Homo sapiens: one gene and its partner. The protein of the gene in region 2 interacts with the protein of the main gene of each other region in a pairwise test. Each region holds a gene or a part of one and is shown on either strand. Other genes may lie near its edges.

Region 1 (3,820 bases), on a different chromosome or scaffold from region 2:
GTCCACACTACCTCCACTTCCTGCAGTAACACAGTCAGGGGGGGCATGCCCTTCATTACAGTGGCAGTGCCCTAAATCATTACAAACTCCCTTCCCATTACACGTTTTTTCTGGGTTGCAGGCAGAAATCACTGGGGTTTTATCTGTGCAGGCGGAATTCAGGCAGACTTTGTTTGGTGCACAGTAAGTGCCATTGTGCACATCTCCTTCATCAGGAATGTCAGTACTCATATAGGCATCCATGCTCCAACATGAGCCATCTCCCTGAGGGACCTGAATCATTGTATGTTGGAGATTGATTTTTGGTAAGCCTGTAATACCTGAACATATAAGTTTCCCACAAAATATATTACCATCTGAACACCGAACATATTGTGACCCAGGACTGGTAGAAATGCCACAGTTTCCAAATTGGTCCCCTTTGCTGTTCATTGAATTGTAACACTCTTGTGAGGCTGATTTTGCACCATATCCATATAATTGTAAGCACTGATTATTAGGGTCCATACAATGAACTTTAAGGCACTCGTAAATTGTATGACATTTTGAGCCATCTTGCTTATGCCTGTTGTTGGGGCATAATGCAGATGTACCATTGCAAAATTCTGGGAGATCACAGGAACGACTAGAAGGACAGCAAGGATATCCCTTACGGTGAAATTTACACTTATGACAACATGGACCATCACTGCACTCTGCTTTCGCCTTCAGTATACAGTTTTCATCACAGCATGCATGATGCTGACATAGAGAACCACAGTCACACTGCTCCGTGTCCTCCACCACACCATTTCCACAGGCAGAATCCCTACGCTTGCGGCCCCTGGGCCGTGGCTTGTTAAATAGGCAGGCCCCTTTGTGTTCTCGAAGGAACTGGTAGAAGTAGTCAGAGCTGCAGCTGCTGAAGCCACTTTCTTTTGTGATATTTTCATGCATGAGGCAAAAGTGCTTATCTTTACAAAAGCAGGCCGAGTGGTCGTGCTGAATACCCAGGTTGTGCCCGAGCTCATGGGCCATCAGGGCTGCAAACAACAGCACATCTTCATGATGGAAGGATTCAACAGCTGCCGCAAAACCGCTTGAGCAGGCACCACTGAGAAAGGCCTGGCCCATATTCTGTCCAGGGTGATGCCCAACGATCATGTGGGCAACATCGTGTTTTGCACGATGGAAGAGCATCTCTTGTCTCCAGTGATTGAAATTCCTGAGTGTGATTTGCAAGTCCACTGTGACATCTATTAGGTCCCCCTCGGTCCAAATCTCCATTCCAGCCAGCACCACCTCTGTGTTTATTCCCCTAGTGAAGCTGTTGGCCAGAGCAATGACATCCACTACTGTCTGGACCGTCTCATTGACGTTACTGCCCCACATCTGGAACCGCTGGTTGTTGACCACGACAAACATCTCCACGTACTTTTTGTGTGACCACAAGTAGGACAGTGCCTGTAGATCATGAGGCTTCCTGCTCCCTTGTTGCCAGCTAGTAGACACCACAGGAGACTCACGCTTGATGTGCCATGGTGTATAACACATGTTCAAACCGTCTTGAAGAGTCCATGGGCTCAATGCTGTAAGATTTTTCCTCCTTAATCAGGAGGATGTGCCCCTGAGACCTGCACAGATGTTGACAGAAACAAAAGAACCTGACACTCCTTCTATGTAGCCTTCATAGTGGCAGTCATGTGAGATGAAAGGCGATTCTTGCCCCAGGAGGCCATTGTGGTAACTGTAGACTGGAAAGTTATTCACAAAATGGTTTCTCTTCACCTTCAGATGAACCAGGTGCTTCTGGCCTTGCATAAGTAACAAGTAGGACAGTCCTTCCACTGGGCTATCTCCTCCCTGGACTGTCAGCCTCTTTGGAATAATTATTTCATAGAAAGAGTAATAGATTGATCCCAGGTGACAGTACATGCTTGGCACAAAAATCACCAAAAGCATCAAAATCTCTAACCTGATACATGAAGGTCCTGGTACTAGCCCCAGCCTTAAGTTCCACTTCTGTGGAGCCCAAGTTTGAAACTTTATCTTAGCCTCTTCCAAGGCCACTTGGTTTTTCCATAAAGCAGGATGTTGGCAGAGTCTTTTAATAATGCCACCAGTGACATGGCCCAAATAAATCAGTTAATGATTCTGGGCCTATGTCCATCAGCAGAGCTCTCCCTCGCACACAAACCCTCGGAGGCTCAGGTGTTTAGTACTCAGATCTACGCTGGCTCCCTTATTGGCAGTTCTTGCCCAACTCTGATTCTTACAGAACTTCAAGCCGTGTTTCTCTTCCTGCTTCTCTCCTGGCCTTCGGCAGTTTCTTTAGTATGTCTTCCTTCCAACAGCAACAACTTTAATCTTCCTTAGTTATATTCCTTTTACTTTCATGGGAAGATATTCCAAGTAGAAGGCCTGTAGTGATCCAGCCAGTACTGTAACTCCTCAGGCAAATTATTCTTTATCCTCAGCTCAGGCCACACAACTTGATATCCATTAATCTGCTCATTCTTTGAAACACAACATTCTGTCAGGGGGTGGGGGGAAGGGGGCAGGGCTTCTCTGGGGATCTCTGAAAAGGACAAAGTTCTTTGTGGCCCACTGCCTCTTTCCCTCATTTCTGCAGTTTTCAGGGTACCATTTATCAGTTCAGCTCTCCTTTGTCAGTGTCTGGTTTTTTTCTTTAATTCAAGAAAATCTGTATGTGGATGTCCAAGTTTTCCCTCATTATCGTTGGTTCATAACAAATGAGTTTAGATATTTTATATCTGCATATAATCTTCTCTACCAAGTTTTCCTAATGCACGGATATATTGTGTTAAGTAAAATGGGCTCAAGTTTCACCATGGGAGTATATAAAGGATCAGGATCAAAGTTCAGTTCCTCCAACTGCCCTAACATAAAAACAAAGTGTGGGGCCCGGGCACGGTGGCTCACCCCTGTAATCCCAGCACTTTGGGAGGCCGAGGCAGGCGGATCACCTGAGGTCGGGAGTTCGAGACCAGCCTGGCCAGCATGGTGAAACCCTGTCCCTACTAAAAATGCAAAAATTAGCGGGGCGTGGTGGCAGGCGCCTGTAATCTCAGCTACTCAGGAAGGTGAGGCAGGAGAATCGCTTGAACCCAGGAGGCGTAGGTTGCAGTAAGCCGAGATCACACCATTGCACTCCAACCTGGGCAACAGAGTGAGAATCCGTCTCAAAAAAAAAACTGTGGGGTCAAAATAAAAGCTGACTAACCAGGTGTCTAGTTAACATTTCATCAAGAAAAGAAAACTGGGCTATATAAGAACTTTTAAAAGATTTCTTCGGTTTGGAACTAAAATTGACCTGAAATGTCTGTGGAAGTCCTTGAATTTGGTTTTGATGTCAATTTCCTTGGTGTATTTAGCAGTACAAATTTAAAAGGAAAAGAAGCCCTATGCACCCATTCCTTACGCAGTTATTCTGTGCATTCTAGATGAAGAAAAATAAAACTCTACATTTTTTATCTTGTATAATTTTACAGCAAGTCAAATATTTACAACATGAGACCTTTCAAATATGAGATACGACTACAGAAAGGAATGTAATGGTAGCATAAGATCTTAGATAACAGCATGAGAGCAGATCAATTTATTCACTATTCCTATTAAATATTTAATTCCTAATACAGATAATACAATGTATCATTAGCATCTAGCAAGAAAATTTATACTGTCACAAACCCACTAAAAAAATTTACAGCAAGAAAAGTGAAATGATTTCCAGCTGTATTTCTTGTGATTTATGTAAGCGCAAAGCTTCTTAAAATTGTATTTTGAAAATTATCACAGATTTTAGGGTGTTTCCCTGTTT
Region 2 (3,820 bases):
TAGCCGGGCATGGTGGCACATGCCTGTTATTCCAGCTACTCGGGAGGCTGAGGCAGGAGAATCGCTTGAACCTGGGAGGCAGAAGTTGCAGTGAGCCGAGATTGTACCACTGCCCTCCAGCCTGGGCAAGACTCTGTCTCAAAAAAAAAAAAAAAAAAAAGAAGCATATCTTAAATATTTAAGATGTCAATGGCAAAAGTGCTTTGTAGAAAATTCGAGTAAGGGCAGGGAGACGAGTGTGCTTGGGGGACGTGGTTCTTTCATATAGGATGGTTGTAGAAGGGCATGCTGATGAAGTGGCACCTCAGCAGACCCTGATGGAAGAGGTGGCGAGGACGGCCATGCAGATATTCAGGGCAGGAGCTTCTCAGTGGAGAGTCCCTGAGCTGGGGGCGCACGTGGTGTGCTGGCAGAACAGCACAGATGGGAGTGAGCAGGAGGGAGTGGATGCAGAGGAGGTCAGAGAGGCAGGGGAAGAGAGCGTGGGCCATAAACAGACATGGGCTTTTATTCTAATCAGATGGGAAGCCATTTGGGAGGTGTTTTTTGGGTTTTTTTTAAGACAGATTCTCACTCTGTCACCCAGGCTGGAGTGCAGTGGTAAGATCTCAGCTCACTGCAGCCTCTGCCTCCCAGGTTCAAGCAATTCTCCTGCCTCAGCCTCCTGAGTAGCTGGGATTACAGGTGCCTGCCACCATGCCCAGCTAATTTTTGTATTTTTAGTAGAGATGGGGTTTCACCATGTTGGCCAGGCTGGTCTTGAACTCCTGATCTCACATGACCCACCTGCCCGGCCTTCCAAAGTGCTGGGATTATGGGCGTGAGCCACCGTGCCCAGCCATTTGGGAGGTTTAAGCAGAGGTGTGATGTGACTGCTTCACATTTTCAAAGGATCACTCTGGCTGCTGTGTTGAGATAGACTGTATGGGTGGGGGGACAAGGATGAAGACAATGAGACCCACCAGGAGGCCATGGCAAAAATCAGATGAAAGACCATGGTGCCTGGGACCAGACGATGGCGATGGGAGTGGAGGTGGTGAGGAGTGGCCAGGTTGTGGATATATTCTGAAGAAAAATCAGGGTATTTACTAATAGATTGGAAGTAGGGTGTGAGAAAGAGAGGAGACAAGTATGACTCCAAGGCTTTGGCCTGAGCACTTGAAAGGATGGAACCATCCGTCATCAACGGAGATGAGGACAACTTCAGGTAGAACAGGTCTCAGGCAGGCGATCCGCAGTTCACTTTGGACATGTTAAATCTAAGATTTACTGACATCCAAATGAATTAATAGGTAGGAATGTGAATCTGGCATTCCAGAAAGAAAGCTGGGCAACATATAGAAAGGGAGCAGGGGAGAGAAAGCATCTATTTGGGAGGTGAGAGCATACAGATTGCTTTTAATAATGTGAGACTAGCTGGGCGTGGTGGCTCACGCCTGTAACCTCAGCACTTTGGGAGGCCCAGGCAGGTGGATCACCTGAGGTCAGGAGTTCGAGACCAGCCTGGCCAACATGGTGAAACCCCGTCTCCCCTAAAAATACAAAAAATTAGGTGGGCATGGTGGCAGATGCCTGTAATCCCACCTACTAGGGCAGCTGAGGCAGGAGAATCACTTGAACCCTGGAGGCAGAGGTTGCAGTGAGCCAAGATCACGTCACTGCACTCCAGTCTGGGCAACAGAGCGGGACTCTGTCTCAAAAAAAATAAATAAATAAATAAATAATAAAGACTGTGAGACGGGATGCAGTCATGAGGGAGGAGAGTAAATAAAGAGCAAAAGGCCAAGACAGAGGTCTGGCCCACTCCATGCATTAGAAAGCTGGCCAAAGGAGGCAAAATTGGCAAACAATGAGACACAGCAGCTGGTGAGGTAGGAAAAGACTCAGCAGAGAGAGGTGTCCCAGAAGCCACGGCAAGGGGTTTCACGGAGAGAGTGGTCACCTACACACAATGCTGCTGACAGGACAGGGAGGATGAAGACTGAGAAGCAACCACTGGCTGTAACACCACGGACATCATTAGTGAGCAAAGGCCTGATCAGAGTGCGTTCCAGAGAGAAAGATCCAGTTACCAATCAACTGGAATACTGAGAATAGAGGAACATGTTAAATGAGACCACAGGGGACGTAATCAGTGGAATCCAGACAGCGAGATGCAAAACAGGACAGGTGGCCCAATTCCTTCCAGATAAACTGAAAGGAAAAATAATAGATGGAAGAGATGCCCGCAGATTAAAAAAGACTTAAGAGACATCTCAAACATAATGTGTGGACATTACTTGAATCCTAATTCAAACTAAAAAAATGTTTTTAAAAATTGAAACAACTGAAAATCTAATCACTGGCTAGACAGTGATCTAGGCTGAAGCTTTTACTATGGTGGTGGTGGTAATAACATTGAGATTATCACTTAAAAAAAAAAGAGTCTTTACCTTTTGAGCTAATACTGACATATTTGCAAAGGAAATGACTAATGTCTGGGGTTTGCTTCAAAATAAAATGGGAGTGGGGAAGTGGGCAGGGATTTAGGTGAAACAAGACTGGCCAAGAGTTAGCAGCTAATGCAGCTGGAATTTGGATACATGGGGACCCATTATACTATTCTGTCTATTTTTATTTGAATATTCTATAATAAAGAGAAGGGGAAAAGGGAGGGAAGGAGAGAAAATGGGGAAGAAAGAATTGGAGACAACAAGTATAGACAACTCTTTCAAGGGGTTCTGCTCTAAAGAGGAGTGGAGAAATGAGGCACCAATGCAGGTAGATGCAGGGCCCAGGGAGGTTTTCTGTTAAAGACGGACAGCAGGACAGAACAGTCACATGCTGGTGGGAATAGCCCAGCAGAGGGGGGAGAGCTGATGACTCAGAGGAGAAAGGAGAGAGACGCTGGGGGTGACCTCCTGGGGTGGGCAGGGGACATCAAGCCACAGGAACAAGGGAAAGCAGAGTCTGTGGCCACCGAGCAGCAGATGGAAGAACAAGCTGGCTGCATGTGGACGCCTCTTCTGGGTGACTCCGTTCTCTCAGTGAACTGAAAAGCAGCATTGAGGATCCGGGAGGAAAGCAGGAGAGGGAACGGAGTAAGATACGGAGTGTGCATTCTGAACTTTAAGAAGGGCCCCCCTGAGATAAGTGACTACGACTTGAAAGCAACTCCAGGCAGCCTGGTTTGAGGTGCGACTCCAGCCACATTCCGGTGAGCATATACCAAGACAGCCAATGACACATGATCGCTGGTAGGTGTCAAGTGGGAAAACCAAGGAGTGAAGAGCTGCAAGAACTTGCAGACAACCAGACAACTCAGAGGGGTCTAGGAACAGCGAGAGCAAAGGCTCCCAGACAGAAATGCAGACTGTGGGGAATGAATGGAGTGAGCCTTGCTGGGGTAGAACGTCCAAGACCAGGTTGTTTCAGTGGAGACAGGCTTTAAGAAGACACTGAAATTGGATAACGGGGAGCCAGAGAAGTTTATGAGAAGGGCTGACAAAATGAAATCAAGAATTTTATGCACCTGTGCTGTTCCTCACCTCTATCCCTGCCCCAGGGACCACCACATACCTTGGGGGCCTCCCCCTTGCTGCCCGGGGGCAGCCGCAGGACCCAGAAGTTCCTGTTGCGCAGCAAGTTCTCCAAGTTCTCCAGCCGCCTCTGCAGCAGCCCGTACTCCTGCAGCAGGGTCCCCAGCACGGCCCACTTGCTCTCCATGTGGTTCCCAAATTCCACGGCCGTCTTTTCACAGTCGGCCAGCTTCTTCTCGGCTGTCCCCGTGCGCCCCTCCAGGTTCAGCAGCTGGCTGGCCTGGGCATCCACCTTCCTCTCC

What was found.
Region 1: the proteins of ZNF282 (region 2) and MAPKAPK5 interact in a two-hybrid assay, tested with the Homo sapiens proteins (one large-scale study listed by BioGRID and IntAct).

What each region holds. Positions count from the first base shown.
Region 1 is NC_000012.12:111,897,551-111,901,370, reverse strand, and holds part of MAPKAPK5 (MAP kinase-activated protein kinase 5), read right to left. Parts: 3' UTR 1-3,820. UniProt on the Homo sapiens protein: Tumor suppressor serine/threonine-protein kinase involved in mTORC1 signaling and post-transcriptional regulation. Phosphorylates FOXO3, ERK3/MAPK6, ERK4/MAPK4, HSP27/HSPB1, p53/TP53 and RHEB.
Region 2 is NC_000007.14:149,198,491-149,202,310, reverse strand, and holds part of ZNF282 (zinc finger protein 282), read right to left. Parts: coding exon 3,559-3,820; intron 1-3,558.